Linked DNA regions of Homo sapiens. The protein of the gene in region 2 interacts with the protein of the main gene of each other region in a pairwise test. Each region holds a gene or a part of one and is shown on either strand. Other genes may lie near its edges. The genes, in order: LHX8, FOSL2 and ATF7.

What was found.
Region 1: the proteins of FOSL2 (region 2) and LHX8 interact in binary tests that used the Homo sapiens proteins (3 or more experiments, as listed by UniProt).
Region 3: the proteins of FOSL2 (region 2) and ATF7 interact in binary tests that used the Homo sapiens proteins (3 or more experiments, as listed by UniProt).

The regions. Positions count from the first base shown.
Region 1 is NC_000001.11:75,137,378-75,141,130, reverse strand, and holds part of LHX8 (LIM/homeobox protein Lhx8), read right to left. Parts: intron 147-3,753; coding exon 25-146; intron 1-24. UniProt on the Homo sapiens protein: Transcription factor involved in differentiation of certain neurons and mesenchymal cells.
Region 2 is NC_000002.12:28,395,726-28,399,478, reverse strand, and holds part of FOSL2 (fos-related antigen 2), read right to left. Parts: exon of another isoform or gene 3,703-3,753; intron 1-3,702.
Region 3 is NC_000012.12:53,619,636-53,623,388, forward strand, and holds part of ATF7 (cyclic AMP-dependent transcription factor ATF-7), read right to left. Parts: intron 1-3,753. UniProt on the Homo sapiens protein: Stress-responsive chromatin regulator that plays a role in various biological processes including innate immunological memory, adipocyte differentiation or telomerase regulation.

The DNA.
Region 1 (3,753 bases), on a different chromosome or scaffold from region 2:
CTAAGAAAAAGCTTCACAGCATACCTGAAATAATCAAGTTTGCAGAAAATGTCTTTGTCTTTAATATAACAGCTGGTGTGCCTTCCTAGGGAGGTTCTGCAAACACTGCAGGAGAGACACCGGACATGCCAGCATAGGTCATTCACCTGTGAAGGGAAGAGAAGCCATTGTAATATCATATTTAAGAAAAGTATTCATTGGTTTTGTGTATTGGGCAATTTAAAAAACTGGCCCCTTAATATATTAACACATGCTCTGAATGTTTTCATCCAAAAGATGTCATTTTTTTTTAAGATGTCATTTTTGTAAACATGTATCTGGATATATTATCTTTTAGACCTCAACCAAAAATTTATACTAATATATGCCACATTTTGTGTTTATAATATTTTCTATTCCTTTGAAGAATTCAGGTTGCTTTTTCTTTCTTTCTTAAATGGAATCTTTATGAACACAGGGAATAGTTTGGTTACTTTAAAGTCCTACATACAGGTTTTTTTTGTTATATTTTACCAAGTTCTTCCCAGCATGAAACCTTGTGGTTAAAGAAGACAAAACACATACTCTCTCAACCTATTTTTTGGCTAAACAATTATAAACTGTATACCTCCTAAACAGAGCAATAAAGAAAGTGAAAATGCAGGTTTATAAGATAGTTACCTATACAGGACAGAAATTGCTCAGATAAATTTAAATGTTGATGTAGCAGAAGCCCGGGTTCTCTTCTAATATTAAACAGCTGAACAGAAACAATAGAAATAAGTAGAAAAGTATATTGGTAAAACTGCTTACTGATTTGGCTACAGGAGAAAAAAATAAATCTAATCATAAGTGGTTCTAAAAAAGCACTCAAGCACTGTTTTCCACTTACACTTCAAGTAGTAAAACATAAGATGGTGTTTAATAAGGCCAGTATTTTATACTTTCTAAATAGGAACATGAAATATTGTCAATCCAGGGAACAAGTCATAATTACTCTTACTTTAAACTGTTGCCATTATATTACAAGCGCTACAACTTTAGCCCTGGAGTATGAAGATGTGTATTAGATAGAACTGGCTTGCATGCAATGCAGGCTCCCAAAGTTTGCTCTTGTTAAGTGGACACAAGAACCTGATTTATGCTTAATTGAATTTCATGTAAAAGAACAGTAACATACAAAAACACCAATTACACCCTAAAAATGGATCCAATGACTAAAATAGGAAAGTAAATGACTGTGAGATATGGCTTTTGCTCAACTATTCCATAATAAAGACTATGTGTCTATCGAATTAGAACTACGGTCCAACATGTTTTTCTGCAATATATAAAAGGTACTTCGAAGCTGAAAGTTTTACTGACTTCTAATTACAGTTATGTGTCTCTTTCCAAAGCATTAATGAGAGTCTCATTTTGATGACATTCAAAAAGTTTTGGTCTTTACAAGAACTTAGAACTTACATGCTCACTATAGACAATATTTAAAATAATGAAAACAGAAAGAAATCTGAGGAAATCTGAATAAATAATATTAACAATGTTAAATACTGCCTTGGAAATAAAAAAAGCATTTTCCTTATATTTTTTTCCTAAAATGGGACCAACCAGTATAAAGTTTAGATGAACAGGCTTCCTTTAAAATTCCACTGTTTAGGGCCTTCTGTATTTCAATCTTACCCAGGATTTTGTTTTGTTTTGTTTTTAAAGCTAGGCTTTAGGGGAAGAGCCATGGCCTCTCTCTTACTCCCTCCTAAAGCCAGACCTGGTTGTCACGTTTTTTCAAAGTTCACTTCCCTCCTAAAATGTCTGTTTATCTTCCATTTCTTTGCCAGGGAGTAAAGTAAGGTGAAGAGAGGAGATTCTGGAGACTATAAACCTACTATTAATCTAATCTGTGTATGTCTAAACATACAACTTGGACCAAGCCAGAAAAACTACCCGAAGGACAGAGCACTGAAGTTATTGGACAAGGTAATCAATGCATCTAACTCCTGTCATACTTTTCTAACTCCATTTTATTTGCCTCACAAGATAGTGTTTTTCTATATTAGTTACACCCTAAAATAATATTTCTATACTAGGTCTAACTTTTTTTTTTAAATCAGTGACTCAAGTTAAACTCAAACTTTTCTGCAGGAAGTACTCAAAACGGAAAATAAAGGTTAATAATTCAGTTTTTGTCAATCATATAGTATCAAACTTTAGTTAGAAATTACACACTAAAGAATACAAGAAGTGGTACAATAATACTGTACATGGAAGGCTTCATTGGGAGGACTCCTGCCCTATTACAAAGGAAAGCTTTATGTAACTCACTTAACTTAGATTTTTATGCAATACAAAGATATATAATATATAAATGTATACAAGATTAACACTAGAAACTATTATCTATTTCAGAGGTTGTGTTAAATGTCACTTCATCATAACCCTTCTATATCTTCTCTGCTGTGAAGTGTTAGAGCCTTCATAGGTCTACTCAGAAACATTCTTAAAGATTACGGTAATTATTGAGAGGGCTCATTAAAAATAGGATGCTAGTTTTAACCCAAAAGATGATTTTGCAATATCCAAAATGCTCAGTTTTAGAAACATTGAAAGTGGAATCTTAAGAATGCAGATTTAAAGAGAAAGCCAATGTTAATTTGCCAGCTTTAAGAATCAACCACCAAGTAAGATTAATTTAGTCATTTTTAAATCTTTTTACCAAAACTTCTTCTGGCATTTTCTCTAGGTTTTATCTATAGGGTAGCATTCCCATTTTACAGATGAAGAAGCTTTGTATGTTGAGGTAGAAACTTAAAGAAACCCACTAACACGAATTTTGAACACATACTCTCCATAATTAATCCTTTTGAAAACCTAAGCAGGGTGGGGAGAGAATAGAAAGTGAACTGGTTTGCTACTAATTCAGTGTAGGAGAGACCATTATTTTAAATAGTGGTTTTAAAAAGCTATTTAAGTTGAAACCCCATGATATTCTGATTAAGACACATGGGACCATGATCTGCACTGAGGTGGATAACTGTGGCCTGCCAAAATTTCTACTCCAAAATTCCCCCACAATATTTTAAGAGAAAAGTAAAACAAATTAAGACAATCAACTCTCAAACCACACTTGAAACACTTCTTCCCAGGCTGTGTGTGTCTAACTTTATATCAATTTCCATTTTCTCCCCAAGCACTCAAGATGATGTAACAACAGCATTGAGTGGCCTAGAAGTATTAAACCTTAATAAGAGCAGGAATATATTGAAATGGTTTTTATTTAAATGGACCTATAAACTTTAACTTTGGAAAAGCCTCAGGTAACTGTAAAAAAACATAGGACTGTATTTTTAAAATTTGTCCAGAAAAGATCCTTTAAGCTACTTTACAGTGGCTTTCACCAAAAGAGACACTGCAAAAGGGAATCAGTTAATACATACCAACTTAAAATTCTTCTAAGCAGTCATGGGCGTGGGCGTCACTGGGGTGGAGAGACCACAGTCCGTTTAGAGGGAACAAAGATGTTTAAGAAAGGAATAATTCGGGGCTGGGTGAAAAATAACTAAGCAGGTTTCTGTCTCAGAATGGATAAGGGTTTTTCCACTTCCCTTCCACTACAAGCCAGTGGCTGACTCCAGCGCATCCACACACATCCGGCGCGTCCAGACCAGGATGTGTCACACATTAGCTGTTTTGCAACGACATAGAAGAGTCTGGGATTTCTTCTCACTTTATCCCACCGCATGAGTTGCCCTAAACTGGGCTGATTTTCTGCAAAAGCCT
Region 2 (3,753 bases):
AACACGGACCCTCTAGGGCCACCAAACCTCAGCAGGTCAGAGAAGTTCCCCCCACAACAGTTGCTGATTTGGGAAAACTGCCTCCTGAGACTCTATACTGGAGCCTTGGCTTCAGCTATGAACCCATGGCTTTTTGCTGACAGGTATTGGAACTAGGGTTTGGGCCCCTACAGGACCGGATGGGGCCGAGGGCTTATCCCAGAGACTCGTGAGTGGGCAGAACTGGTATGTGAGATGGAAGTCAGGGTTGGGGTTCTTGGCCCAGCCCCTTGGCCAGGCGATTCTCCATCAGATAGATTTTTGTCTGGGTTATCAAGCATTCAAGCCATGAAGCCCTGTGGACTCTGTAAACTGCCTTGCCAGGCAAGCAGGTATGATTGAGTGTATCTAGGAAGGGACTGGGTTCTTTCCCTTTAAGAACCCTTTCTTTAGATTCCCAGGATGGAAAAGGGACAATTCCAACATCCTAGAAGATTGGCTCCCAAGAAGAGAAAAGGATAAGGGCACAATCTGTCTCATACCTCCCATCACATCCCCACTGAGGTCCAGTTTAACGCAAATACTCTGTATTTTTACTGAACCTGGGATGTTCCCCAAAGCCTTCCATAAGGAATTTAACCATTCTTCACAGGTTCTGCGTTGAACATCACTTTGACCTCTGACATTTCATTCCTCTCTGAAGAAATACCACTATGTCACAATGGAAACTGTTGCTAATAAGTTGTGATTTCCCAAAGCGTTACAGTTTATAAATGCTGTCTTAGGTGACTCGCCTCCCTTCAGCCTCCACGCTTTCCTGGGTTCCCTTGAAAGACTTACTCTATCCTCCTCCACCTGGCTGCCTGCCAGGGGGAAGAGAAGCAGGGAAGGAAAGAAACAGAAAGAGAAGGCCTTAGCCCTCGTCCAGGCTCCCCAGCTGCTTCCCTGCCAGGGCCCTTTTGGCCAGAAGCGCCACTCCAAAGCACTGGGGAATTCACTCCACTAGTGTGTGGGCCCCTTTGGAGCCCCCACAGCTCCCTGGCGGCTCTGTACTCCATGGGAATGACACGTCCTCTCATCCTCCATTAAAGCCACCGGAAGGTGAGCCTAGGAAAGTCTCACTGCCACGGGACAGGGCCGAGAGACCAGGTGGGCCAGGAGAAATCTTATACCTTCCCTCTCTGGCCCAGGGAGTGGAGAAGGGATAGAATTACCAGATGGGGTTTGGAACAGATATATTTGCCTCAATCAGGGCAGCTGCTGTCATTTTGAAATACTGTGGCCACCAAAAGACACCACATACAACATAGATGAGACATATCCACAAAGTAATGATGCTATTTTTTTCTTTGTTTCAACAAATAGACCGGAACGTTCGTCTCCTTAATTCTCACAACCAGTATCTTTATTCCTATCTAACAAATGAGAAAAAAAATCCAAGTTATTGACGGCAAAGGTGCCTGCTTTGGTGTCCTTTGTCGTGGGCATGCTCTCCCAGGTAGACTCTAGAGGCCTGCAGGACACAGGGTCACACCCTACTTTGGCCTCAGCCTGATCATCCAGACTTGTATGTCAGACTCGGCTCCAAAGAGGCTTTTGGTAATTTCCAAATATCAAATTCACCCTTCAAAGGACAAAGATTTGTTAGTAGGGAGGATTTTCAAAAGAATACGCTGAAAGCAACTGCAAAAGAGGGGGTACTGCAAAACCTTTCTGAGTCTAAGCATAGCCGCAGCATTCAGATAAGCATTTAGTCTCCCCAAGGAAAAAACAAGGAAGGGGATGACAGTGACAAGGATGAATAAGTTCTGCTGTGTTTGTATTAAGATAGAGAAGAAAAAACAAGTCTCCCAATTTTACCCTCACCTTGAATAATAAGACAGGCAGAAGCAGAAATGGGTAGTGGAAATGCACTCAGCGTTTTGGATAGGAAAATTCAAATGCCTTTCAGACAATACATGACTGCTATTTCACCCCATTCCCTTTGATGAAAAAGTGAAGCTGACTTCCACCATCAAGAATCAGCGGAACAGACAAATTCTTGGGATAACATTTTGTTTGATCCTAATCTACAACATCTGTAACATCAAGGGGAAAAAAAAAAGCACCCAGACCCTTAATCTATGCCTCCCACATTCCCACCAACTGAACAAGCCCCCTCCTAATATAAGCACATAGGAAAACATGCCTTGGGAATTTGAACAAACTGTGAAGGCAACCTAATGAATAGACAGACATCAAAATAGGAAAAGAAAAAAGCACTCCTTTTTTTATTTTTATTTTTTATTATACTTTAAGTTCTAGGGTACTTGTGCACAACGAAAAAGCACTCCTTTTTTAACCAGGTTTTATTTAGAAGAAAACAAAAAAGAAACTCAAAGTCAAGCAGTTCCTAGTTAACCACGGTTAAATATGTGGCATTTATTTGTCCCTCATTAAAAAGAAAAAGCATCCTAAGAATTCCAAACTCACCAATTTAACACTCTCTGGGACTGGAAAAATACATTCCCAAGATAGTTTTCCTAAAAATTTCCCGTAGAGGGCACTAGAGAGGTATGATTGAGGCTAGCTTGGGAATCACAGTCATTTCTGGTAAAAGTTCTTTGATGTGAGGAATGTCCCAGTCTGGTACAGTTGGCAAAAGTTCACTCTGGGGAATTTTGTGTGTGTGTGTGTGTGTGTGTGTGTGTGTGTGTGTGTGTGTGTGTGTCTTGGGAAGGGGTGGTTGAGGAAGAAGAGTGCTAGTCTGGTATTCCTTAACTCCAAAAAGGAAATACTGCCCTTGATTTATTTTCACAAGTTATCTGAGAAACAAATAGCAGCCTTGGAAAAGTTCTAGGTCTTGTTTTTGTTTTGTTTTTTCATTAAAAGGGGGCCCAGCTGATGAAAACAAGTTATGAAATGACCTATGTTTGTGTAACTGGCTGGATTGCGTAATGCTCAGGCCCTGAAACCGTAATAGTCAAGCAGCCAGGCAGGGCATATATCTGGGAGATGTTTTCCTAGGAAAGTTAGGAGAGAAAAAACAACAGCAAAAAGAAAAATCCAAGAAGGGGAGGTGTGTGCAACGGTTACTGACAAAACAAAATCACCAATGACCAACCTTTGAGATTAAAACTATAACTGGAACAGGAAATATTTTTCATGCCTCAAGTTCCTGCCATATATAAGAACAGAGGCTGTAACAAAGACTAGTCTGCTCCCCCCACCCCCAAAGTCACTGGAGCTCATGGCCATGTATTAAGATCCAGCTTCATGAAGCTAGAGAGGACGGGAAAGCTCTGGGTTGAAGAACTGGCAACAAACTAATCAGGAATATTGGACCCCCAAAAGAGAGAGCTGAAAAAAATAAAATTCACTTCCCCAGAGAAAAACCAGAGAACTGTCTCATATGGATCGGTCCACTGAGATGCCATAAAAGAGAAAGGCCCATCCACTAATTGCCAGGAAAGTCTTCCAGTACAGGAAGCGGAGAGAAATAAAGTGATTACAGGTTTTATCTGGTATGTAGTAAAGTTACCTTGAGCCCAAGATCGGGCAAGGTCATAGCATAGACTTGTGAAGGAACAAAAGCCTCTGAGGTCAGTCCTTAGGACCACAGAACAATTTTGTTCACACTTGGAGCAATGACAGAAAAATCCACCAGTTCCTCCTCGTCCCCCACCCAACCACCACCACACCAAGGAGCGGACAGGCCAAGAAACTTGTCTCAAGTGGCATTACCTTGCCAATCCCTCCGGTTTGAAAGGCGCCTCACACACTGCCGGGCCGAAT
Region 3 (3,753 bases), on a different chromosome or scaffold from region 2:
ACTCTGTCTCTACAAAAAATACAAAAATTAGATGGGCACGGTGGCGCACATCTGTAGTCCTAGCTACTCAGGAGGCGGAGGCAGGATAATCACTTGAGCCCAGGAGGCAGAGACTGCAGTGAGCCAAGATGGCGCCATTGCACTCCAGCCTGGGAGACAGAGGGAGACCCTGCCTCAGAAAAAAAAAAAAGTTTCCGAAACAGAATTTCATCTAATGTCAAAAAATCTGGCCAGGCACAGTAGCTCATGCGTGTAATCTCAGCACTTTGGGAGGCTAAGGCAGGAGGACTGTTTGAGCCCAGCAGTTCGAGACCAGCCTGGGAAACATGATGAGACCTCTACAAAAAATAAACAAAATTAGCCAGGCATGGTGGCATGAGCCTTTAGTCTCAGCTACTCAGGAGGCTGAGGTAGGAGGATGGCTTGAGCCTGGGAGACTGAAGCTGCAGTATGAGCCATGATTGTGCCACTGTACTCCAGTCTGGGCAACAGAGTAAGACCCTGTCTCAAAAAAAAACCATGGCCGAGCACGGTGGCTCACGCCTGTAATCCTAGCACTTTGGGAGGCCGAGGTAGGTGGATCACTTGAGGTCAGGAGTTCAAGACCAGCCTGGCCAACATGATGAAAACCCATATCTACTAAAAAAATACAAAAATTAGGCCGGGCGCGGTGGCTCACGCCTGTAATCCCAGCACTTTGGGAGGCCGAGGCGGGCGGATCACGAGGTCAGGAGATCGAGACCATCCTGGCTAAAACGGTGAAACCCCGTCTCTACTAAAAATACAAAAAATTAGCCGGGCGTAGTGGCGGGCGCCTGTAGTCCCAGCTACTTGGGAGGCTGAGGCAGGAGAATGGCGTGAACCCGGGAGGCGGAGCTTGCAGTGAGCCGAGATCCCGCCACTGCACTCCAGCCTGGGCGACAGAGCGAGACTCCGTCTCAAAAAAAAAAAAAAAAAAAAAAATACAAAAATTAGCCAGGTGTGGTGGCACATGCCTGTAATCCCAGCTACTTGGGAAGCTAAGGCCTGAGAATTGCTTGAACCTGGGCGGCAGAGGTTGCAGTAAGCCTGCCACTGCACTCTAGCCTGGGGAACACAGCGAGACTTCGTCTCAAAAAAAAAAAGAAAAAGAAAAAAACCACAACCAAAAGACAGTAACAAAATAACAACAAAAAATCCCTGCAACTATGAAGAAATATGGTTAATTTTCTATAATTATTTGAAAATGAAAAAAAAACAGGACTAGAAGTCTTGGAAATGGGAAAATTATAATTTTTTAAAATGTGGGGCAAGGGAGGTCGAGTACAGAAATCGTAGACTAGTGAAATATTATTTCTCAGAAAGATTCTAAATGAATTATTAAACAGATCACTTATGAACCACTGGCAAGTTATGCAGTGATCTATAAACAGTAGCATAAGATACCCAAACAGCAACTAATATGCAACTTCATTTTCTTTTTTGACAGGGTCACTAGCCTAGGAGTTCAGAGATGTCAGAGGCAGAATATACTGCATTTGGATTTCAACAAGATACCTCTTGCTATTTCATAGAAAATAAAGGTTAGATTATATAAAATGGCAGGTGGGATTCACAACTGAATTTTATCCAAAAGTTGACTAACAGGTTAATGTTAACATAATGATAGTCTACTCATGTTGTATAGCATTGTTCTACCCTTATACATGTTTACCAGTGACCTAAAACAAAAACACAGGTATCATGTTTATCAAATTTATCAATAATACAAACATATGAGAAATGGTCAAGAGGTGAAATGACATTATCAAGCTAAAACAACAAACCAAATTAACAAAATGATAATTACAGGGATAAATGTAAAGTTGTCAAAAAATCAACTACATGGCCGGCGCGGTGGCTCACGCCTGTAATCCTAGCACTTTGGGAGTTCAAGGTGGGTGGATCACTTAAAGTCAGGAGTTCGGGACCAGCCTAGCCAACATGGTGAAACCCCGTCTCTTCTAAAAATACAAAAAAAAAAAATTAGTTGGGTGTGGTGGTGCAGGCCTGTAATCCCAACTACTCTGGTGGCTGAGGCAGGAGAATCGCTTGAACCCGGGAGGCGGAGGTTGCAGTGAAACAAGATCGAGCCACTGTATTCCAGCCTGGGTGACAGAGCAAGACTCTGTCTCAAAAAAAAAAAAAAAAAAAAAATCAACTACACAAACTAATGTGATCTTAGGCTTTAAAAACAGAGGCATAGAGTGCAATAAAATAGAAGTTGTGATTCCCCCCGTAGTTTGTATTTATTAGATTATATCTGAGATGTTCAGACCTAGATGAGGAACCATAAACCACTCAGGTAACTAACTTGATGAAGAGCCTGATCTTTTATTTAAAATGTCACTTAAGAAATCGTACGGGCTGGGCTCAGTGGCTCATGCCTGTAATTCCAGCACTTTGGGAGGCCGAGGTAGGCGGATCACTTGAGGTCAAGAGTTCAAGACCAGCCTGGCCAAAATGGTGAAACCCCGTCTCTACTAAAAATACAAAAATTAGCTAGGCATGGATGGCGGGCACCTGTACTCCCAGCTACTCAGGAGGCTAAGGGACAAGAATCGCTTGAAACCGGAAGTTGGAGGTTGTAGTGAGCTGAGATCGCACCACTGCACTCCAGTCTGGGAAACACAGCAAGACTCCATCTCAAAAATAATAATAATAATAATAATAATAGAAATAGCTGGCCGGGCGTGGTGGCTCACACCTGTAATCCCAGCACTTTGAGAGGCCGAGGAGGGCAGATCACGTGGTCAGGATATTGAGACCATCCTGGCTAACACGGTGAAACTCCGTCTCTACTAAAAATACAAAAAATTAGTCAGGCATGGTGGCGGGCGCCTGCTAGTCCCAGCTACTCGGGAGGTTGAGGCAGGAGAATGGCGTGAACCTGGGAGGCGGGGCTTGCAGTGAGCTGAGATTGTGCCACTGCACTCCAGCCAGGGCAAAAGCGCGAGACTCTGCACTCCAGCCAGGGCAAAAGTGCGAAATTGCGTCTCAAAAAAAAAAAAAAAAATAGCTTAAAGAACTTGGGGTATTTACCCCAGAAGAGATGCCTCCTGTAATCCCAGCACTTTGAGAGACCAAGGTGGGGAGATGGCTTGAGCCTAGGAATTCCAGAAGAGCCTGGGCAATGCAGGGAGACCCAATCTCTACAAAAAATTTAAAAATTAGCCAGGCATGTTGGCATGCGCCTGTGGTCCCAGCTACTTGGAGGCTGGGAGGACTGCTTGAGGCCAAGAGTCCTAGTTACTCAGGAAGCTAGGACTAGAAGATAACTTTAGCCTAGGAGTTCGAGGTTACAATGATCTGTGATCACGTCACTTGCACTCTAGCCTGGGCAACATAGCGAGACCCTGTCTCTAAAAGAATGAAAGCGATAAGTGTCATGAAATACTTGAAGACTACCATGTTAACAAGGAACTAGATTTATTTATTGTGGCTTCAGATAACAGAGCTAAAGAGCTTCAGCACAATGTAAAAAATGTTCTAAAAGTAAAGCTCCAATAATGGAACAGGGTATCTGTGAAGTGGAGACTTTCTCCTTAGAGTATTCAAAAGTCAAAAGACCAACCGTCTTTTAACACATCATACCAACTCTGATGTGTTTTCACATATCATAAATTTATTTGATCCCTCCTAAAAAAACCTTAGGGGAAGGCAACATGTCAAAATGAGTAAATGTCAGAGAAGCTTAAAAATTATTTTCTTTGACATATTTTTAAAGAGACAGAA